Linked DNA regions of Homo sapiens: region 2 is linked to region 1. A link means that fine-mapping ties the variant in region 1 to the expression of a gene that starts in the linked region. Tissue or cell type: whole blood. Region 1 holds a variant in brackets; the other region holds the start of a gene. All regions are shown on one strand. Distances are between the middles of the regions. Region 1 has its middle 27 kb from the start of LINC01656. Region 2 holds the start of RTL6 (retrotransposon Gag like 6).

What was found.
Region 2: RTL6 starts here. The variant in region 1 is fine-mapped to the expression of RTL6 in whole blood (TOPMed, PIP above 0.99).

What each region holds. Positions count from the first base shown.
Region 1 is chr22:44,464,408-44,476,486 of GRCh38, forward strand. No RefSeq gene overlaps it. Among named protein-coding and RNA genes, the nearest start is that of LINC01656, 27 kb to the left of the region's middle. The variant T/C (reference allele first, on the strand shown) is at 5,231.
Region 2 is chr22:44,492,507-44,504,585 of GRCh38, forward strand. It overlaps RTL6 (retrotransposon Gag like 6), which reads right to left and starts at 5,727. Exons shown (of 2, transcript NM_032287.3): 1 at 5,538-5,727; 2 at 77-5,305. The coding sequence starts at 5,050. The coding sequence ends at 4,331. RefSeq lists enhancers at 2,843-3,620, 3,621-4,398 and silencers at 5,658-5,787, 5,878-5,937.

The DNA.
Region 1 (12,079 bases):
TAGCTTGGACTACAGGCACACACCACCATGCTTAGCTAATTATTGCATTTTTTGTAGAGACAGGGTTTCACCATGTTGCCCAGGCTGGTCTTGAACTCCTAGGCTCAAGCAATCTGCCAACCCCAGCCTCCCAAAGTGCTGAGATTACAGGCATGAGTCACTGTGCCTGGCCACATAGAAGCATTATTCTTTAAAAAATATTATATATATAACTTTTTTTTTTGGTAGCTGTACGGTCTTTCTGTGTTGCCCAGGCTGGTCTCGAACACCTAGCCTCAAGCGATCCTCCCACCTTGGCCTCTCAAACTGCTGGTGATGCAGGGCAGGCAAGCTCTAAAATTGGGACTTAGCCTGGGAGGGTTCTTGACTTCACCTAAGAAAGAATTCAACTGTGAGCCAGTGATGTTAGACATCAACACTTATTGAAGTGGCAGTGTATGGCAGCAGCAGAGGTACTACTCCCTGCGGAGCAGGACCACCCCATAGGCAATGTGCCCAGAGTAGCAGCTCAGGTGTAGTTCTGCAGTCATAGTTATACCCACTTTTAATTACATGCAAATTAAGGGTCAGGTTATGCAGAAATTTCTAGGAAAAGGATGGTAACTTCTGGATCATTGACATAGAAAGGGGCAGTAACTTCCAGTCTTGCCATGGCAATAGTAAGCTGACATGGCATTGGTGGGTGTGTCTTATGGAGACTTAAGAGTGCTTTTGCCTCTTCCTTGGTTCAGCTAGTCTTCAATCTGGTCCAGAGTCTAAGCCCCACTTCTGGAGTTGAGTCCAGCCTTCTACCTGAATATTTAAGAAACCAAAGATTTACCCCCAGATTTCCTTCTAAGAGACTTATAGTTTTAGCTCTTAGGTCTGACCCATTTTGAGTTAATTTTTTATATGGCATGAAATAGTGGTCCAGCTTCACTCCCTTGCATGTAGATAGTCAGGTGTCTTAGCACCATTTGTTGAAAAGACTATTTTCCCCATTTAATGGTCTTAACATCTTTGTCAAAAATCAATTGACTATAAATGTGAAGATTCATTTCTGGATTCTCAATTCTATTTCATTGATATATATGTCTATTCTTATGTCAATACCACACTGCTTTGAGTACTGTAGCTTTATAGTAAATTTTGAAATAAGGAAGTGTGAATCCTCTAACTCTGCTCTTTATTTCCAAGAGTGTTTTACATATCCTGGATCCCTTAGTGTCTATATAAATTATTGGGTCAGATTGTCAATTTGTGCAAAGAAGCAAGCCTGGATTTTGGCAGTGATTACAATGAATTTATAGATCATTTTGGGAGTATAAAACAATATAAATTATTATATAAAAATATAGATATAAATATAAATAATAAATTAAATTAATTATTAATTATTAATATAAATTAATTATTAATTTATTAATAATAAATATTGCAAATATAAACAATAATAAAAATTATTGTGATTATATAAATTAATTATATTAACAATATTAATTACTCTGATCCATGAACATGGGATATGTTTCCATTTATTTAGATTTTCTTTAATTTCTTTCAACAATGTTTTATAGCTTTCAGAATATATATTTTTTACTTCTTTGTTAAGTGTATCTGTAAGTATTTTGTTCCTTTTAGTGCTATTGTAAGTAAATTTTCTTAATTTCATTTCAGATTGCTCATTGCTATTGTATAAAAATATAATATATTTTTGCATATTGATCTTGTGTTCTGAAACTTTCTAAACTCATTTCTTAGTTCTACTTTTCGTGTGTGTGAATTGCTTAGGATTTTCTGCACAAAAGGTTATGTAATCTGCAAATAAAAATAATTTTACCTTTTCCTTTCCAATGCAGATTCCTCTTTTATTGCCTAACTGTCCTGGCTAGAACTCCCAGTACAATGTTGAACAGAAGCAGTGAGGGTGAACTCTAATCCTAGTCTGAGTATTTTTATCATGAAAGAGTGTTGAATTTTGTCAAAAGCTTTTTTTTTTTTTTTGAGACGGAGTCTCTCTCTGTCACCCAGGCTGGAGTGCAGTGGCACGATCTCGGCTCACTGCAACCTCCGCCTCCCAGGTTCACGCCATTCTCCTGCCTCAGCCTCCCGAGTAGCTGGACTACAGGCGCCCGCCACCACGCCCGGCTAATTTTTTGTATTTTTGGTAGAGATGGGGTTTCACCGTGTTACCCAGGATGATCTCGATCTCCTGACCTCATGATCCGCCCGCCTCGGCCTCCCAAATTGCTGCGATTACACACGTGAACCACCACGCCAGGCCTGTCAAATGCTTTTTCTGCATCTATTGAGATGGTCATGTGGTTTACTGCTGTACTGATATGGTGTATTATACTAATTGTTTCTGGGTGTTAAATCAACCTTGCCTATAGGGATAAATTCCAAATGGTCATGGTGGACAATCCTTGTTGGATTCTATTTGCTAGTATTTTATTGCAGACTTTTTGTATCTATATTCATAAAAGATATTAGTCTGTAGTTTTGTAATGTCTTTGTCTGGTTTTGGCATCAGGAAAATAGTAGCCTCATAGAATGAGTTGTGAAAGTTTTCCCTCTTCTTTGATTTTTCTGGAATAACTCATAAATAATTGATATTAATTCTTTCTTAAATGTTTGGCAGTGAAGCAATTTGGACCAATGCTCTTCTTTGTGGAAAGTTGTTTTCTTTTAAAAAAAAAAAAAAAAGTTACTAATTTAATCTCTTTATTTATCTGTTCAGATTTTCTATTTCTCCTTGAGTCAGTTTTGGTAGTTTGTGTCTTTCTAAGAAATTATCCATTTCATCTAAGTCATCGAATTTACTGGCATATGATTGTTCATAGTATTTAAATGGCATCTTTTAAATTTCCATTTGCTGTTTGTTTCTAGTATACAAAAATACAACTCACTTTTGTATATTGACTTACTAGACTCTCTAATGAATTCCAATAATGTACCTGTAGAATCTCTAGACTTGCTACATGCATGAGCAAATTCTCTGTAAATAATGATGAATCTGTTTCCTCATTTCCAATCCTTATGACCTCATTTCTTTGTATTGCCTTACAGTAAGGCTTGATTTTCAGTCCAATGCTGAAGAGAAGTGGGGGAGCAGGTATCTTTATCTAGCTGCCAATTTTAAAAGGAAGGTTTTCAGCATTTTACCAATAAATACATGTCTTCTATAGTTTTTGTAGCTACCATTTATCAGATTAAATTTTTTCTTTTTTTTTCTTTTTCTTTATTTTTTTATCATTTTGAGACAGGGTCTCACTCTGTCACCCAGACTGGAGGGCAGTGGCATGATCGTGGCTCCCTGCAACCTCTGCCTCTCCAGTTCAAGCGATTCTCGTGCCTCAGCCTCCTGACTAGCTGGGAATATAAGCACGCGCCCCCAAGCCCAGCTAATTTTTGTATTTTTAATACAGACGGAGTTTTGCCTGTTGGCCAGGCTGGTCTCTAACTCCTGACTTCAGGTCACCCACTTGCCTCAGCCTCCCAAAGTCTCGGCCTCCCAAAGTGCTGGGATTACAGGCGTGAACCACTGTGCTCAGCCTATATTTCTAGTTTTCTAAGAGTTTCTTTTTTCGTAAATGGAGTTTGGGCTTTGTCAAATGTTTTTTCTGCATCTATCGAAATGAACATTTACTTTTTCTCCTTCAACTGTTAATGTGGCAAGTAACATTTGAGTTTACAATGTTAAATCTACCTTGTAGGTGGGTCACTTTTCTAATGTTTTGTTTAGAATTTTTGCATCTGTGTTTTGCGTGAGGTTGCCTGTAATTTTTCTTTCTTGTGTTGTCTACCCTCTTCTCTTTTTCATATCAAATTAAATTGGCCTCCTAAAATGGATCAGGTAATCTTCCCTTTTTTTCTTTCTCTAGAAGAGGTTGTGTATTAGAAGTGTTATTTGCAGGGCAGGATTCTCTGGTGAAGCCATCTGGACTTGGAGTTTTCTTTGTGGGAAGGTTTTTAGTTAAAAGTCAATGGTTATAAGATTATCCAGATTTTCTTTTTCTTGTGCCAATTTTGGAGCATGTGTTTTTCTAGAAGTTTATCCATTTTATGTAAAGTTTCAATTAAATTGCTACAGTTTTTCCTGATAGCCTCTATTTAGTTTCCTATAGCTGCTACAACCATTTATCACCAACTTGGTGGCTTAAAACAACACATATTTATTATTTTACAATCTGGAGGCCAGAAGACCAAAATGGGTTACACTGGGCTGAATCAGGGTGTCAGCGGGGCCATGCTCCCTCCAGAGGCTCTAGAAATGCACCCATTTCTTTGCTTTTCACAGCTTCCAGAGGCCACCTATACTCCTTAGCTTGTGCGTAGCCACTTCTCTTATCTTCAAAGATGCCATTTAAATACTATGAACAATCATATGCCAATAAATTAGATGACTTAGATGAAATGGATAATTTCTTAGAAAGACACAAACTACCAAAACTGACTCAAGGAAAAATAGAAAATCTGAGCAAATAAATAAAGAGATTAAATTGGTAATTTAAAAAAAAATCCCACAAAGACGAGCCTTGGTCCAGATGGCTTCACTTCCAAACATTTAAGAAAGAATTAATACCAATTATTTATAATTGGTATTATAAATGCCAATTAACTATGGTGATGGTTGCAGAACCCATTATAAACCCTCCAGGCTCTGCTTCCATCACAGACTTCTCTTCCAGTGTTAAACCTCCCTCCACCTTCCTCTGGCCTGGAATACTTGTCCTAAGCACTTGACTCTATCTGGCTATCACAGATACATGCATGAGATCATCATTTGTGCTGAGAGTCTCTAGGGAAAGAGACTCAAACAAGTGACTCCTTGTCTCTTAAGTGTTTTCAAAGAATTAATTGCTGATTTCATTAATTTTCTCTTACTTTTTTCTATTTCATTAATTTCTAAGCTCATCTTTATTATTTTCCCCTTTCTATTTGGTGTTTGTTTGTTTGTTTGTTTGTTTTTGAGACGGAGTCTTGCTCTGTAGCCAGGCCGGAGTGCAACGGTGCGATCTCCGCTCACTGCAACCTCTGCCTCCCGGGTTCAAGCAATTTCCCTGCCTCAGCCTCCCAAGTAGCTGGGACTACAGGCGTGTGCCACCATGCCTGGCTAATTTTTTGTATTTTAGTAGAGTCGGGGTTTCACAATGTTGGCCAGGATGGTCTCAATCTCCTGACCTTGTCATCTGCCTGCCTCAGCCTCCCAAAGTGCTGGGATTACAGGTGTGAGCCACCACGCCTGGCC[T/C]ATTTTTCTGGTTTTATGGTTGTATTATTATTTTTTATTTTTTTATTTTTGAGATGGAGTCTCACTCTGTCACCAGGCTGGAGTGCAGTGGCACAATCTCAGCTCACTGCAACCTCCTCCTCCCGGGTTCAAGCGATTCTCCTGCCTCAGCCTCCTGAGTAGCTGGGACTACAGGTAGGTGCCACCATGCCCAGCTAATTTTTGTATTTTTAGTAGAGACGGGATTCCACCATGTTGGCCAGGATGGTCTCGATCTCTTGACCTCGTCATCTGCCCACCTCGGCCTCCCAAACTGCTGGGATTACAGGTGTGAGCCACAGCACCAGGCCTGGTTTTATTTTTGAGGCATCATGTTGTCTGGGCTGGAGTGCAACAGCGTGACCATGGCTCACAGCAGCCTCAATCTCCCAGGCTCAAGTGATCCTCCCACTTCATCCTCCTAAGCGGATGGGAGTACAGGTGTGCACCACCATGCCCAGCTAATTATTATTTTTATTATTATTTTGGAGAGACGGGGTCTCACTGTGTTGCCCAGGTTGGTCTCAAATTCCTGAACTCAAGCTATCCTCCCACCTCGGGATCCCAAAGTGCTGGGAATACAGGCATAAGCCACTGTTCCTAGCCCTGGTTTGATTATTATTTTTTTTAACTCCTTAAGATGATTGCTTAGCCCATTGATTCCCAGCCTTGATTATTTTCTAAAGTAAATATTTATGGCTGTAACTTTCTAAGTGCTGCTTAGCTGCCTCCCATATGTTTTGATGTGCCTTGCTTTTATTTTCATTTCATTCAAAACATTTTCTAATTTGCATGATGATTTTTCTTGACCTGTGAATTACTTAGATGAGTATTTCTTAATTCATAGTTGCTATCTTGTGTCAGATTTTTATGTATGATTTCAGTCCTTTAAAGTGTATTAAGATTGTTTTATGGCCAAAAATGAGGTCAATTTTAAAATAATCTTTCGTGTGTGCTTGAAAATAATGTACATTCTGCAGTTGGATGCAAATTTCTCTATATGCCAATTAGGCCAAGTCTGTTGGTGGTGTATTTCAAATCTTCCGTATGCATACTGATTTTGTGTCAGCTTATTATACCAATTACGGAGACCTTGCACTAAGACTGTGAATTTGTCTGCTGCTCCTTGTGGTTCTGTCATTTTTCTTTAGCTATCTTGAGGCTTTGTTATTGGGTACATACAAATATACAATTGCTATATTTTTCTGATGAACATAACCTTTATCATTATAAAGGGCTTATGCTATCCAATGACTTTTCCTTTCGTGCTATTTTGCCTACCAGACGTAAAGCTAGACTGACTTTGTTCTGGTTAGTGTTTGCAGGGTATGTGTTTTTCCATCCTTTTACTTTTCACTTTTCCGCATTCTTAAGTTTTACATGTATCTCCTGAAAACAGCATGTAGAGTTTTGAAAACCCATCCTGACAAGCTTTGTCTTTCAACTGGAGAAACTGCCCATGTAGTTTCAGTCTAATTGCTGATAAATTTCCCTTTTTCAATCCTACTTTGTATATCTATCTAACCTCTTCTATGTTATTTTTCACTCTGTTCTTGCCCTTTGGGATTGATTATATATTTTATTATTCCATTTTTGTCCTGTCTTAGTTTGACAATTCTATTGCGGCTTACCTAGAAATTTCAATACCCTTCCTTTTCTTGTTAGCATGAAATATTAATTGCTACTTTTCCACTTCCCCAGGAAATGCAAGGATCTACGATCTGTCTAATTCCATTACCCCCTTTCCAAGTTATACGCTCTTGTGTTTCTATATGTTCCATATATTTTAATATAATATACTCCATATATTTTAAGCTCCATAAGAATGTATATACAGTTTGTTCTCATTTCGGTTTTTTAAACAACTTTATCGAAATATAATTTGCATACCATATAGTTCCGCTGTTTAAAGTGTACAATTCAATGTTTTTAAGTTATTTGCAAAGTTCTGCAACCATTACCATAGTTAAATTTAGAGCATTTTTATCATCCCCAAAAGACACCTTGTACCCATTAGCAGCCACTCCCCATGACCCACCTCCCAACTTCTCCTCACCCTCCTCCTTGCCCCTAGCAAACACCAATTCACTTTCTGTGTCTGTAAAGGGCCTAATTTAACATTTCATATAAGTGGGGTAATAAAACACACAGTCTTTTGTGTCTGGCTTCACTGTGCAGAATGTTTTCAAGAGCGCCCATATTATAGCATATTTCGGCACTTCATTCCTTTTTATTGGTGAATAATGTTGCACTGCAGAAATATAACCCCTTTTGTTTATTCACTATTGATGGATGTTTATGTTTTTTCCATTTGTTGTCTTTTATGAATAATGCTGCTATAAACATCTGTGTAGAAGTTTTTAGGTGGACATATGCTTTCAATTCTCTTGGGTATATACCCAGAAGTGGAATTACCGGGTCATACACTAAGTCCATGTTTAACCATTTGCAGATCCACCAGACTGTTTTTCAAAGTGGCAGCGTCACTTCACATTCCCAGCAGCAATGTACGAGGGTTCTAATTTCTTTACATCCTCATTGCTGTAGTTTTAATGATGGGGTCCCTCCAAAATTCGTGTTGAAACCAAATCCCCGATGATACAGCAGTGTTAAGAGGTGTGGCCTTTGAGGGGTGAGTGGAAGTGGTACCTTTGTAAAAGGGCTCAAGGCTGGAGGGAGGGCTCTCTTGCCTTCTGTCTCTTCTGCCGTGGGAGGCCACAGTATTCCTCCCCACTAAAGGATGCTACAACAAGACGCCATTTTGGAAGCAGAGAGCAGCCCTCACCAGACACCAATCCTGCTGACACCTTGATCTTGGACCTTCTGGCCTCCAGAACTGTGAGAAATAAATTTCTGGTCTTTATAAATTACCCAGTCTATGGTATTCTGTTGTACTAGCACAAACAGACTAAGACAGAAATGGGTACCAGGAGTAGAGTATTGCTATATATGTATATATATATACATACCTGAAAATGTGAATGTGGCTTTAGAACTGGGCAATGGATAGAGGCTGAAACAGTTTTGAAGTGAGTGCTGGAAAAACCCTGTATTTCATTAAGGGAAATTCTGGTGAGGGCTGGGTCTTCCCAGAAAAGAGCTGTAGAGATTATCTGAGTAGGTCAAGCACAGAATGTTGGTAGAAACATGAACAGGAAAGGCCATTCTGATAAGGTCTTGGACAGAAATGAGGAATTTCTTATTGGAAACTGGAGGAAAGGCCATCTTTGTTACAAAGTGGCAGAAAAGTTGTCTGAATTTTATCTGTGCCCTGCTGCTCTGTGAAAGCAGAATTCAAAAGTGATGAACTAGGATATTTGGCAAAGAAAAACTCTAAGCATGGCTGCGTGGCTTCTCTTAACTGCTTATAAAATACAAGAAAAGAGAAACGAGTTAAAGACAGGATTCATTATCAAAAGGGAAGCAGAACATAAAGATGTGGAAAATCTCAGCCTGGCCATGTGAAGGATGAAACCGCATGTTTAGGGGAGAAAATTAAGGGTATGGCTAAGCTACACTTGGATAAAGAGATTAGCATGGATAGAAGGGAGGCAGATACTATCCATCAAAGCAATGGAAAAATGGCCCATTTCAGAGTCAATTGATGGCATTTCAGAGATCTTCCGTCCTCAAGATTTCAGAGATCTGCTACAAGTCTCACAGGCCCAGAGGGCCACATTCTTGAGGGTAGCAGAGTTCAAAGGGAGGGTTTCAGGATACTCACGGGACGTCAGAGCTCGCTGCCCACTGCTGCCTCAAGTCTCAAAAATGCTCCCTACATTTTTGTGCAGTGCTCCTTGGCCACCCCAGCCATAGCCCAAGTGGACCCAGATGTGGCTCAGGCTGCCACTCTAGAAGGCATAAGCAATAAGCCTTGGCAGTATCCACTTGGTGCTAACTTTGCAGGCAGAGCTCATGCACAGAGAGTGTATGAGCTGTGGATCCATGGCTACCTCAACCTAGATTTCAAAGGATATCTCAGAGAGCCTCGGGGCCCAGGCAGAGAAATGCTGCAGGGGCAGGACCACTGCAGAGTCCCCACTAGGGCAATGCCTAGTGAAGTCAGGGCCACCACGGAGAGCCCCTACTAGGCCAGAAGAAAGGGGCACCAGGGGAATGTCCAGTGGGGCCACGGGAGTGGGGCTGTTCTCGAGACCTCAGAACTGTGGAGCCATTGGAGTATGATCCCAGCCTGGGAGAGGGGCAGTCACCAAACTCCAACCCATGAGAGCTGCTGTGTGGACCACCCAGCAAAGCCATTAGGGAAGGGATCCCTGGAAACGTTAAAGGACCAACTCCCACCTAAGTGTCTAGAAGGCAGGACATGGAGTCAAAGAAGATTATTCTCAAAACTTTAAGTGATTTTTTTTTTTTTTTTAGAGACAGGGTCTCACTGTGTTGCCCAGGGTGGCCTTGGATTCCTAGATTCAAGCATTCCTCCCACCTTAACCTCTCCAAGTAGCTGAGACTGCAGGCACACACCACTGCACCCAGCTCAAGCTCTAAGGTTTAATGTTGTTTTCCTGTTGGGTTTTGGATTTACTTGAAACTTGTTACCCTTTTCTTCTTGCCTATTTCTCTCTTTTGGAATGGCAGTACCTATCCTATACTTCTCCCACCATTGTATCTTGGAAGCACATCACTTGTTTGATTTCAGTCTCACAGCTGTAGAGGAATTTGCCTACGGATGAATGGTACCTTGAGTCCCATCTGTATCTGAGTTAGATGATATTTACATGAGACTTTGGACTTAGACATTAAAGTTGATGCTAGAATGAGCTAAGAATCTTTGAGGCTGTTGGGATGGAATACATGTATTTTGTTTGTGCAAATAACATGAATTTTGGAGGCTAGGACAGAATGTTATGGTTTGAATGATGGTGTCCTCTCCAAAACTCACGCCCAGTGCAACAGTAAATTAAAAGGTGCAGCCTTTGGGAGGTGATTAAGACAGAAGGGTTCTATGCTCATGATTGGGATTAGCACCCTCTCTTGCCTTCTGTCTCTTCTGCCATGTGAGGCCACAGGGTTCCTCTCCTCTGGAGGATGCTGCAACAAGATGCCATTTTGGAAACCGACGGTAGCCCTCACCAGATATCAATCCTGCCGGCACCTGGATCTTGGACTTTCTAGCCTCCAGAACTGTGAGAAATAAATTTCTGTTCTTTACAAATTACCCAGTCTGTGGTATTCTGTTACAGGAGCAAAAATGGACTAAGAGACTTACCAACATTTGTTATTGTCTATCCTTTTGATGATAGCCATTCTGGCAGGTGTGAAGTAGCATCTCATTGTGATAATTTTTGCCTATATTTACCCACATATTTGCATTGTAGTCCTCTTTTTTGCTGCAAGTCTGACCTTTGTTGGGGTCATTTTCCTCATGCCAACAGAACACTTTCTAGTATTTTCTTTACATAGGTCTACCTACTATTGATGAATTTTCTTAGTTTTAGTCTGTCTGAAAATGTTTTTATTTCATCTTCATATTTCTATCTTTCTACTTTAAACTTTCTTCTAGTTATACTTGAAGTCAGTTGCTTCCAGATAGCATTTAGTTGGGTCATTTTTAAGATTTACTCCACCAACCTGTCTTTTCATTAGTGTATTAAGACTATTTACATTTAATGTAATTATTGATATTTCAGAGGTTAAGTTTGTCATTTTTTTCCTGTGTGTCTCCTCTAATTTTGTTTCTCTGTTTTTTTCTCTGCATCCCTGTGGAGCATTTGAACACTTTTTTAGGATTCCATTTTGATTTGTCTATAGTATATTCAAGTGTTCCTCTTTGTGTAGATTTTTTGTGGATGCTCTAGGCACTACAATATACATACATAACCTATGGTCTACTGGTGTCAACCTTTTATCAGTTAAAGTGAAATATAGAAACTTTACTTCCCTTGGAGTCCATTTACCCTCCCATTTAAAATATTATTTCCTAAATATTTCTTCTACATACATTGAGAACCATAGTGAATGATGTTATAAGTTTTGCTTCAATCCTTGAACACAGTTTAGGAAATTCAAGAAAAGAAAATTATATTGCATTCACTCATAGTTTTGCTCTTTCCCTTATTCTAGGTTCCTAATGTCCCAAGATTCCTTCTTTTATCATTTTTTTCTATTTCAAGAGCTTCCTATAGCCATTGTTTTATGGTAGGTATGTTGGCAATAAATTATTTTCATTTGTTTTCCTTTGAGAATGTCTTAATTGCCCCATCACTTCTAAAGGATATTTTTGCTAGGTATAAAATTATGGGTTGTGAATCCTTTCTTTCAAGAATCCAAAAATGTTGGACCGCATGGTTTCTGATGAGAAATCTAGTGATTTTCCTCTATAGGTAAGGTGTCATTTCTCTCTTGCTGGCCTCGAGATTTTTTCCTTTGTCTTTATTTTTCAGAAGTTTGACTATGATGTGTCTTGGCATGCATTTCTTTGGGTTTATTTTAGTTGAGATTCATTTAAGTTATTGAATTTGTAGGTTTGTGTCTTTTGCCAAATTTGGGAAATTTTCAGCTATATTTCTTTGAATACATTTTCAGCTCCACACTTTTTCTCCTCTCCTGAGACTCTGATGATATGGATGTTAGCTCTTTTGTTAATGGTCCCACAGGTCCTTGAGACTCTGTCCATTTTTTAAAAAGTCAATTTCTCTCTATTGTTCAAATTGTGTAATTTCTGTTGTTCTATTTTCAAATTCAGTGGTTATTCCTCAGTCCCTTCCATTGAGCTCATTCAATGAGGTTTTAAATTTTGGTTATTACTTTTTAGTTCTAAAATTTCCATTTGACTCTTCTTTATATCTTCTGTATCTTTGCCAGGATTTTCTA
Region 2 (12,079 bases), 28 kb after region 1:
GAGACAGATCGACTATGTATGTCAAAATTCCAATAAGATAAAACACACAAAAACCCAGAAACAGCTGTAGCAAATATGACACACACCAGGTTAATATCTTTAATATATACCGAGCTCATACAAATTTATCTGACCCCAGAAGATAGAGCAAAGGACACTGACAATCCACAAAGGAGGAAATACAATCGCTCCACATGAAAGATGTTCAACCGTGCTAGAAGTCAGTGAAATGCCAACTGAAACACGATGCTATTTTTTCATTATCAAATTAGCAAATATTTAGCCAGATGATAATTCCCAATACGGGCAAGATGGACATGTTTATCCTTGCTGGTGGCAGTGTAAGGGGATACAAATATTTCCGGAAACCATTTTGTCAATATGTAGTAAAAGCCTCAAAGGTTTTCATATTCTTTAGTTGAAGAATCCCACCTCCTGGAGTCTACCCTAATAACTTGACATTGGGAAACAGCCTGTGCACAAAGATATTCATCAATTTATAACTGAAAAGTTAGTAACAGCATTAGTGATTGGCAACTGGCACAATGGTCCATCTAGTCAATGGGAGAGTACACAGCCACTCCAAAATAAAATATTTAGTAATCATAAGGGGAGATGCCCACGATATGCTAAGTGAAAACAGCTGCACAAAACTGTATCATTACAGAAGACAGCAACAAAACTATGTTAAAACAAAAAGCAAAGAAACCATAGTTGGGGGGGAAAGCCTGAGAGACACCAAAATGTGATGTTTTATTTCCTTCTTTCCTCTACTTGCAAAAATTTATCTAACATGTGGTTTACATGGGTAATGAGAAGACCTAGTAGGTTTGGTGCTTGTGTATGCAAAGGCATGAGGCACACGGAAGTGAGGAGCTGGGTTTCCTCCCATCTCTACCGCATCTGCGCTGTGCCAACTGCCACCCCACCCAAACTCAGGTCCCCAAGAGACAGAGACACAGGGGCTGTCTGTTCCACGTGGAAGGCCCTACACCCCAACCTTCTCCCCTACTCTGGGGAGCTTCTCCTGTTGGCCCAACAGTCTGCTCTTGCTTCCCTTACCCAGGAGACCCACCTTGTGCCTACCTCTCTAAGTCCCTAAACCAGTGCTTTCCAAGCAGAGGTGCCATGAGCCTTACAACTGTGGTTGCAGATGGAGGCGCCTCCATTAGGATCTCTTCCCTCTTCCACCCAGAGCTCTGCCCCCAGTCAGTGGCTGCAGCATGGGCCCTTTTGTCCAATCCCAGGGCTTGTTCCCTAAGTCAACCTCAGCACATGCCCAGCTCAGCCATGTCCCTTCACTCCCCTACAGGCTGGAACTGCCAGGGTGGTGCCCACCCAAGGCGGCTGTCTGCCATGACAACAGGAGCGTGTGCGTCAGGCTGGTCCTGCCGCACTTTCTGGGTTTTGTTTTCCACTCCTCCTCATTGCTCATCACATACTTACCTGGGGACAATGAAATAGGTCTTTGCTATTCCCTAGAAGTCACCAAAATGCTTTAGGACATTAAGTTAGTCCCAGGGTCACACTATACTAGGCCAGGGAGTCACCCCTTCACTAACTCCCATCTCCAGTGATACCCTGGTATGCACTGAAGCCTACTTACCAAAGGGGTACCATGTGGACCAGACAGCAGTCACAATACAGTCCAAAGAATGTCAAAACCATGGAAAACAGAACTTTCCTTCACATGCACTGTTGAACACTACTGCCTGTCCCTTTTATCAATCAATACCCGTTCTCCTAAAATTTAGAGAAATTATAACCCCAAAATATGTACAAAGCATCTCCCTTCCCCCACTTTCTTAGCCTGATCCCCTATCACTGAGGTCTCCCTCTGGGGCTGCGCCTCATCCTCCTTAGCTGGAGACTAACGTATCTTCCACTAGAGCCACCATGGGGTCCTCACCTCTCCAATGTGGGCTTCTTCCAAGTCCAAGGTGGAGGGCAAGCCCCGACCCTCTCTCATCTGCTCCGTGTTCCAAAGTGCAGGGAGCTATCAAGAAGGTCCTAAGTGCATACCAGCACTCGTCCCAAGCCCACACACATAAGCACCAAGAGAAAAAACACAAATCACCATGCCAAACAAAGGTGGAGCAGCTGCTTGGATTGGGTGCCCATAGGCAGAGGGCCCGGCTGCAGTTGTGGACAGGGAGTGTGTGGACAGGGAGTGTGTGGACAGGGAGTGTGTGGACAGGGAGCGTGGCCGGCCTTTCCTAGGCAGCTGTAGGATGTGAAGCAGCACAGGCCTGACACAGACATGGTAGGGCTTTCAAAAAGCCACTCGAGTAGAGTGAGCGCTGGCGACACAGCAGAGTTCCCACCCTGCTTCCATGCTGGGCTGGGCCACATGGAAACCTTCCAGGTGCCTTTTCCCAGGTGCCACTGTACCCCTTCACTTGGGGGCACCTCTCCCTGGCAGGTACTAGTCTTACCAATATAGCTGCTGGAGACAGAACAGAACTGAGCACAAAGAGAAAGTGATCTGTACACCTCCCATTCATGGAATGGTGGCCCTGCTGTGTGTCTTCCCTCCGATCACGCTTAAAGAGCACCATGGTCCCACCTGAACAGCCTTGGCTGGAGTCCAGGGGAACCTAAAGCCTGTATTCAGGCAGTTGTTCAGCAGGGCAATTGGGCTAACAGAGTTGATGGTGAGTGGGTGGCAGTAGTCTGCGGACCCCAGCAACCACTGAATGTCCTTGACCTTGCAAGGCAGCGGTTCTTCAGAATCGCAGTCACTTTTCCCAGCATCATCAAAACTCTTAAGAAGCCAGGCCCAAGGACCCAATCTCTGGGATCCCAAGACATATACATGTCTTTAGGTGGGTGCGGAGGTTGTCCTTCTGCAATCAAGCCAAGACCCTTCAGACAGGGGCAGCTGAGCCCAGGATAGGAAGCCCTATGGTCCAGGTCATGTCAATGTGGTTCATTTGGCATTGAAATATGGCGGAACAGCACAGTCCAAAGGGCGTGGCCAAACTCAGCCACAAAATGATTTCTTGGTCATCCCCCTGTGAGGAAGGATGAGGTCCTTCAGAAGGAGGACATGCATGCCAGTGCTGCATTGTCACCACACTAGGACCACGGCAGTCCACAGCTCTTTGCTTTTACAAATGCCACCAAGACCCTGGCTGGGTTGCCAGAGGCAGACACCCCCCCCGGCCTTAAGTGCTTAAGGATGTTTCCCGAAGGGAGTCTGTTTTCCCTTGGACAAAGGCAGCCCATCTGATTGCCCAGGCACGGGGAGTACATGCTACAAGGTGCCTTTGGAGACCCACAGATGGTGCGTGGGTGGCTGCAGGGCTGCAGTGAAGGCCACATGGCACCTGAATAGAGATGGGAACAGGTCTCAAGCTGGGCAAGGCTCGCCATCAGTGACAGGGGGTAGAAGCAGGAGTGACTGAGCATCAGCCGCTGTGGCACTGCCCATGGAGATCCTGGGCAGCAAAGGGAGTCGCTGGTATCCACCCTTAGCCTGCTATGACCCTCAGGCGTGGGTGTGTAGGAACCTGCAGCCTGATAGACCTGCCCAATGGCTGAGAGTCCACCACGACCTTATTTAGCAGGCAAGTTCCAGATTCCCCAAGCCTCTGGCTCCATCAGAACACCAGCAGCTGAAGTCAGGCATTAACAGAGGTGCAACATTGGTCCTTCCCAGTGAGAGCAGTGGGGCCTCCCAGACTGCATATTCATGTGCAGAGTGGAACCTGGCCCCCAGACATGGCAGAACTACGCTCCTTGCAGCAACCACTCGACCACTACAGCACAGATGAGGCCCTGCCCGCTGCACCGGGCCCTGGCAGGGCTGGGAGGCATCTTGGGCAGGAAGCCAGACCCCCTCTCCAGGTACACCCATCAAGCCACCAGCCTGGCCAAACGGGCATCTTTCTGTCCAGAGCTCATCAATAGGAACTGGGCAACCAGGTGGGGAGCCGCCAGGGGAGCTTGGAGAGGGCAGAGTAGGAGCCTCCATGAACCAAGTCAGGCTGGAAGGGGTCAGCCCTCGTGGTCCGTCAGCGTGCGGCGGAGTCCCTGTGCCTAAGTAGCAGAGCGGTAGTCATTGAAACAGGCCGGGATGCCAGCAAGAGGGAGGCGAGCATGCAGTGAGCGATAGGTACAAAGCTAGCACGTAAGAGGAAGCACGGCAAGGTGGGCAACCAGGGCGCCAGGAAGGACGGAAGGAAGATCTCCTCGGGGAACACGTCTGGAGAGGCAAGAAGGGAGGTCTTCAAACAGGGGCAAAGCTGTCGTATGGGCATTTCTTCTACACAGCAAAGAGCGTATGCTACCTGGGTGGCTGCAGACGCTACCAAGTGCTGGCGGATTCTTAAAGATTCCGTGCTCGGGCAGGCAGGGCTGGCGCTGGACTAGTCCCGTTGGAAGCTGGATGCACTGGGCAAGGCCCCGTGCCCGCAGAGGCCAGCTGGCGGCAGAGCATCTGCCTCTCTCGCACAGCCCTATTAGAGGCAGAAGTCTTCCTGATTTGGGCGCGCCGCGCATGCCGGAGCGGAGACTTGTAGGTTCTCCGCAACTCTGCCAGGAACCCCTGATAGTTGTTGCGCAAGGGGCTGTCAGGTTGCATGTGGGGGATAGCCCACTTCTCCGCCTCCCCAGTCAGTCGAGACACAAGGAAGGCCACACGCTCGGCCTCACCCGGGAAGCGGGAGGCCTGGAAGATCATGAATCTGTCCATCTGCATCAGGAACCCCGCCAACCGGCCTGGGTCCCCGGAAAAGGGCTCGGGCAGAGAGGTTGGAGGTGTGGTCATGGGTCGAGTCCCGTTTGAAGTAATTGAGGAGATGGGCGGGGTGATCTGCAGAGCCCCCGGGATCCGCGCCCTGGTGCGTAACAAGGTCAGCTCTGCCATCACGCTCTCCAGCATGTTGGTGAGATTGGCCTTCTCCGCCCGCAGGGTGGAAGCCTCCCGCCTCAGCGCCGAGTTGGTGAGGCGCAGGGAGGTCAGGGTGTCAATAACGTCATCCATCTGGGCATTCGGAGACGCTGCCAAGGCTGGGCTTTCAGCTTTGGACGTCTGCGGCTGCACCATGCTGGCCAGAGGTCAGCCACACGCTGAGATCCGCGGGTGGACCAAGAGGGTGTGGTGACCAGGTGGGCCCCTGTAGAAATGGGGGCAGTGTGGGGTGCACGACGGCAGGGCGCTGCGAGACCCCCAAGCCGAGGGCCCGAGAGAGGGGCACGCGGTGCCAGGCCCTAGGGACTTCGGCCCCGGTCCCACGCGGCTCCTTTACTGCAGACTTCGCGGACTACGGAGCCAGACGGGTGGCTGGACCTGCTCTGGGCCCTGGAGGATTAAGAAAAGATGTTTTCAAGGTTTCAGTTGCGACTAGCGGGCAGGAGGGTGAGGGGCGGCGTGGAGGGCCCGCGCGTGGGTGGCGAGGCTGCACAAAGCCCCGCGGCGCCCGCCCCGCGCCCGCCCGGGGGAGAACAAAGGGGGCTGCTCCTTGGCGGCCGCGGGCCTGGGGGCCACCACAGTGGCGGGGCCCGGCCGGGCAGGGGGCCGGGGGCACGCGTACCTGGGGTCTCGCGGTTCCTCCGCGGCTCTGTCCGCCGCCGGCCGTGACCAAGATGGCCCGCGCGGGGGACGCGGCCAGGCCGATGAATCACCGCGCGGACCGCCGAGAACTGCTTCCCGGTCAGCGCAGCCAAGCGACGGCGCTGGCGATGGCGGCGGGCGGCCTCCGGCAGGTGCAGGGACCGGGCCAGGCCGGGGCCGGGGCAGGGGCGGGGCCGGGGTCGCGGCAGAGGGCGGGTCACCGCGCGGCCTTTGTGCGGGCGGGGCCGGCGCGGTGGCGGTGGCGGGCGGGCCTTAGGCTGGCCCCGCTGGTTGCCATGGATACCGACCGCTCCCGCGCGTGCGGAGACGACCGCTGCCCCGCCCCCGGAAGTGATGCACAAAGTCCCACCCCCCCCCACCCCCCAACTCGGGCTGCTGCCAATCGGGGAAGACTGTAGTTGCTGCGGCGTCTTCATCAGGGCGGGTACCTGGTGTTCTCCCAGTCATTCCTCCCAAGAGGGCTTGCAAGGCTCTTTCTGTGGTTGTCATTGGGTTTATTTTTTTGATGATTTACTGTTCTTCTTATTTTTTTTTTTTTTTGAGACGGAGTCTCGCTCTGTCGCCTAGGCTGGAGTGCAGTGGCGCGATCCTGAGTCACTGCAACCTCCGCCTCCCGGGTTCAAGCGATTCTTCTGCCTCAGCCACCCAAGTAACTGGGATTACAGGCGCGTGCTACCATGCCCGGCTAATTTTTGTATTTTTAGTAGAGACGGGGTTTCACCTTGTTGGCCTGGCCAGTCTCCAACTCCTGACCTCAGGGCATCCGCCTGCCTTGGCCTCCCAAAGTTCTGGGATTACAGGCGTGAGCCACTGCATCAGGCCCTTATTGTGATTTGAATATAAATTTAATGTAACAAATCTTGATGTAAGAGAAGTAAAAAAAACTTTATACTACTCAGACTCCCTCCACCTAAAGATAGCAAATAGTAATACATATATATGTAACGTAGAGATAGTAATATTTCTGTACTTCCATCCAGTCATTTTTCTATGATATGTTCTACAAAATATTTTTTACCTTATGAATATTTTGTAACCATAACAGCACATTGAATTTTGAGCATTTTCCTATTAAAGATAGTTCAGAAGCATGATTTTCAGTTATTGCCTGTGGTCCATGGAACTCCTGTACCGCAAAGTATTTAGCCATGCCCTTTTTGATAGATCCTTATCTTGTTTACCATGCTAAAGTTTTATAAACTACACTTGTATATAAATCCCCACCCTTTTCTCTGCTGGGTTCCCCAGAGTAAATACCAAGGAGTGAAGATACCTGGCTGATATGGTTTGGCTGTGTCTCCACCCAAATCTCATCTTGAGTCGTAACTCCCACAATTCCCACATCGTGGGAGGAACCTGGTGGAAGGTGATCGAATTATGTGGGCAGGTCTTTTCTGCACTCTTCTTGTGATAGTGAGTGAGTCTCAAGAGATCTGATGGTTTTAAAAAGGGAAGTTTCCGGCCGGGCACAATGGCTCACGTCTGTACTCCCAGCACTTTGGGAGGCCAAGGCGGGTGGATCACGAGGTCAGGAGATCGAGACCATCCTGGCTAACATGGTGAAACCCCGTCTCTACTAAAAATACAAAAAATTAGCCAGGCGTGGTGGTGGGCGCCTGTAGTCCCAGCTACTTGGGAGGCTGAGCCAGGAGAATGGCGTGAACCCAGGAGGCGGAGCTTGCAGTGAGCAGACATTGCACCACTGTACTCCAGCCTGGGCAACAGAGCAAAAGTCCATCTCAAAAAAAAATTAAAAAAAAAAAAAAGGGAAGTTTCCCTGCACAAGTTCTCTCTTTGCCTGCCGCCATCCATGTAAGACCTGACTTGCTCCTCCGTGCCTTTCACCTTCTGCCGTCATTGTGAGCCTCCCCACCACACAGAACTGTAAGTCCAATAAACCTCTTTCTTTTGTAAATTGCCCAGTCTCAGGTATGTCTTTATCAGCAGCGTGAAAACAGACTAATACACTGGCCAAAGGGTAAGAACTGTTTGATTCCGGGTCTGGATTCCCAGCTTGACCTAGGTGATCCTTCTGCATGGTCAGTTTCAAGCTGGCATGGCTGGAGAGAAAAGATACTGAGAAATAAAAATAAAAATTTAAGCCCCCCCCCCCCAACCAACTGAACAGACCCCCTCTTGGCCAGGGGACCCCAGAGAAACCTGGGAAGCCGAGTTCCTGGCCATGATGGGATGGGAGGTTGGACACACTTCATTATCTGCCCCCGCTCCATAACCGATAACCACCATTAGGCTTTTTTCCTTAAGAGTTAAACAGAAACAAGCCTCTTTGAAAGACTTCAACATTGATACCAACCAACCATCTGACACTGCCCCTCCCTTTTTGTGGCACACAACAACTGACCAGCATTCTTTCCTAGTAAGAGACCACCAACCCTGGAGTGGTTCTGGCCAGCCTGTGGAGGATGTGCAGTGAAAGCTTTTGTGTCCTCTGATACACCTTTTGACATTAGAGGGCTGAAAACTCCACCTTCAGATCACGCTAACACTGCCATTTTTTGTAGGTGCTACCCATGAAGGGGGATGAAGCTCAGTTGCACATGTGCATATTTCTCTTCTCATAAATATTTATAACTCCTCCTGTAGCTTATTGAATATGTATATTTGGCCACCCTGATCAACATAAATTCCTGTCTTACTCTTCCAACCCTTGAAGTGCCTGTTTATGGCTTCTGGCCAGAGGCTACACTTCCCAGCCTATTCAAATGGCCACTCTGCAGGGTGCAACCTTTTATGATAAATAAAACTCTCCTTTCCAGGTTTATGAACCTCGTCATTCTTCAGTTAACAATACCCAGTATGCCAGTCTTTTGAGGACACAGTATTCAAGGAGGCTGAAGCTGGGAACCATCTGCACTCTTTAGGCAGGCCTGGGACAGAGCTGGATTCACTCAGACCTGCAGTTTTCACTCAAGGGAATTAGGGCATAAGGATGTTGTTACTGAGCAAGTGGTCTTGCTGCCTGATGCACACGGAAGCCGATACATATGGCACCAGCTTTTGAGAAAAGAAAAGCTTTATTGCAAAACTGACCAGCAAGGAGAGAGGAGGTGGGCTCAAATCCGTCTCCCTGATTTGAGGTATGGGGCAAGTTTTAAGGGATCAGGTGGCAAGAGAAAGTATTTATCAATGCTGGCTTGCCAGGGTCTGATTGGAGGGCTTCAAATTTGACCATATGTGGTAATGTATATTAAAGTAGATTTTAGCCCCAGACCTTCCAGGCTGATGGACCCCTTTGCTTGTGAATGAGTTCTGGTTTTCAACTTCTGGTCATGTCCCAGTCTTCTTGGTTCTAAGAGGACGAATCATTGGTTCTGGGTGTTGTTGGAGGTCAAAGTTTTTTCTACGGCACATGCCCAGGCTACATGACTTGCAGTTTTGGGCTCTGTTCTACCTAAAAGGCAGCTTGACATTTTGTTACCAACAGGGTAGGCCCAGTTTGGGCTGGTCCCACAACTACAGTGTCAGAACTTGGAAAGGATACTTGTACCCCAGTGTGCCAAAGTGTGCACCCTTTGTGACCAGGTGAAAACTTCTAGAGCATGAAGCAAGAGGGAAATAAAGAAGACTGTGTGTCCTTAAACTTCTTCCATGAGACCTTCTAAATCAGATGGGGGCAGGAGCTGTGTTAACCTTGACTGAGGTCAATGACTTCAAAAGCAGAAATGAGCCTGCAGCCTTCTACCCCTCCAGGTTCTTCTAAACACACAGAGGAATCCCATCCACTCGTGGGAGTCACTCCATCTGTCTCTCTGTCTCTCTGTCTGTCTAGGCCCCTGGATACTGGGCACATTAGTGAAGTGTCTGCTGCAATTCTAAGTGTGGTTGACACCATGAATCTTAAATTCCCAGGTGCATTGAATATAAGATGCACCCCAATTTCAGAAATGATAAAACATTTAAAGAAATAAATAATTTATCTGTATTTCACTTTACTTCCAAGGGGAAATTAGATGGCAGCCCATAAAATAGAGCAAAATAAAAATTAATGGACTTTTAAAAGTAAAAACAGGAGAAGAATATTTGGCTTCTCATCCAGATGAAGCTATGATTCATGCCCTGAGGTGCCTGTCTGGGCTGTGAACACAGAACAATAAAATATGCAAAGAAAATATTGAAAGGATATAAGTGGGCTCCAATCGATAAACAAGATAAACTTCACAATGGTCCAGAAACACAAACTTCTGAGTATTGACGTGGGCCTGCCGGGCTCTGGACCTGAGACATAATAGGGACCCAAGGCTGGGAACACAGCCAGGCTTCCTATTTGAATCCAGGGGATGGAGGAGAGAGGAGTCACCCCTGTGTCAGAAAAAAAGTCTGAAAAATTGGATTCAGTCATTTCATGGGGGTGGGGTGTGACAGTTTATGTGAAAGTGTGGCCCTGGGTCAAAGGAGAACACAGATATAGTCATCTTAATCTCTTGTCCCCTGGTTTAACAAGTAGACCAAGAGGGTCAGGATTCCAAACCACCAACAAAATATATATACACATATATATTATACACATATATGTATATATGTATGTATATGTGTATGTGTGTGTATATATAATATGCATATATGTGTGTGTATATATATATATTTCTTTACCACAGACCAGACATCAAGTGGACCCACCCCAAACTGCTAGATGGGGGAAGGGAGTACCAAGAGAGAAAGAGAGACAAAGTCTTTCAACACAAAATGAGTCTGAGATTCAAAATTCTGAAGCCCATGAAGACATCTTATGCTAAGAATAATAGTCAAGAAAAATCAATAACTGTAAGGTGAATTAACTCCAGAGGAAATTAAAATAATAGAAGAGTCTGAAAAAAACAGACTTTAAAGTAAGTATATTTGGGATGCTCAGTGAGAACAAGGAAGGAATAATATTTGTGAAAAGAACAGATTGTGGAGAAAAAGCCATATTGTACCAAGATCAGGTACCTGTGAAAAAGTACCTTTTAAAAGAAAATGTAGTTGATTTCCATTTCCAGTGAGATGGAGTAGATGCACTCATGCCTATTCTTTGCAGAAAACGTATCGAAAAACAGCTTTGAAAAAAAAAAACCACAAGATGCAGTAGGTGGAGAGAAGGCACCTCAGGACCTAAGGAATAACACTGTGGTGAGTTCCTCGAGTTTTCTTTTGCATCATATAACCCAGACTTGGAGCTGAAGAAGCTGGCAACCCCGAAATGCCAATGGGTGCAGACAAAAAAAAAGCACCCCCTCCATAAAAGCCTGCTCTCTCTAGACAAAAACAAACAAACAAATAAACAAAGTGGGGGGCAGGGGCAGCCTAGCAAGAGAGGAAACTTAGACAGTGATCACTCTACTCTAGCCAAACACTGGCAACACTCCTCAAATTTATCTACAGACTCAATGTGATCCCTATCAAATTTCCAGCTGCCTTTCTGCAGCAACTAGTGTGCTGATTCAGAAGTTCATATGAGAATTCAATGGACTTACAATAGCCAAAACAATTTTAAAGAACTAAGAGGGTTCACGCTTCACAACTTCAAAACATATCTGTAAAGCTATAGTAATTAAGAATGTGTGGTACTGGCATACATCAATGGAATAGAATTGATAGTCTGGAAATAAACCTTAACATTTATGGTTAATTTATTTTCAAACAGGGTGCCAAGACAGTTCAATGGGCAATGAAGGGTCCTTCCTGAGATACCCAAAGGAAAAATATAAAATTAGACCCCTACCTCACACTATACACAAAATTGACTCAAAATGAATCAAAGACTTAAATGTAAGAACTAACACTATAAAACTCTTAGAAGAAAACCTAGGAGTAAATCTTCATGACCTTGGATTGAGCAGTGGTTTCCTAGAAATAACAACAAGTACAAGTGACAAAAGAAAACACAGATTAATTAAATTTTACCAAAGTTAAAAAACTTCTATGTTTCAAAGAACATATCAAGAAAGCCAAAAGACACCAACCCACAGAATGGAAGAAAATATTTGCAAGCTACATATCTGATGAGAGTCTAATATTCAGAGTGTATAAAGAACTCCTACAACTCAATAATAAAAAGATATCCTAATAAAAATGAGCAAAGGAGTTGAATAGACATTTCTCCAAAGAAGATATATGAATGACCAATAAGCACATGAAAAAATGCTCAATATCATAAGCCATCAAGGAAATATAAATCAAAACCACAATAAGATGTCACTTCACACCCCCACCCCCATATTGCCATACTCTGAAAGACAGTCAATAACAAATGTTGGTGAATATGTTGAAAAATTGGAAACCTCATGCACTGCTGGTGGGAATATATAATAGTGCAGCTACTATGGAAAATAATTTGGCAATTCCTCAAAAAGTTAAACCATTCCTAGATGTATGCTTAGGTGCATTGAAAACATATATCCACACAAAAATTTGTACAAAAATGTTCATACAACCATTATTCCTAATAGCTTCCCCCTCCCACGAAAAGGTACCAACCCACATGTCCATCAATTGATAGATGGA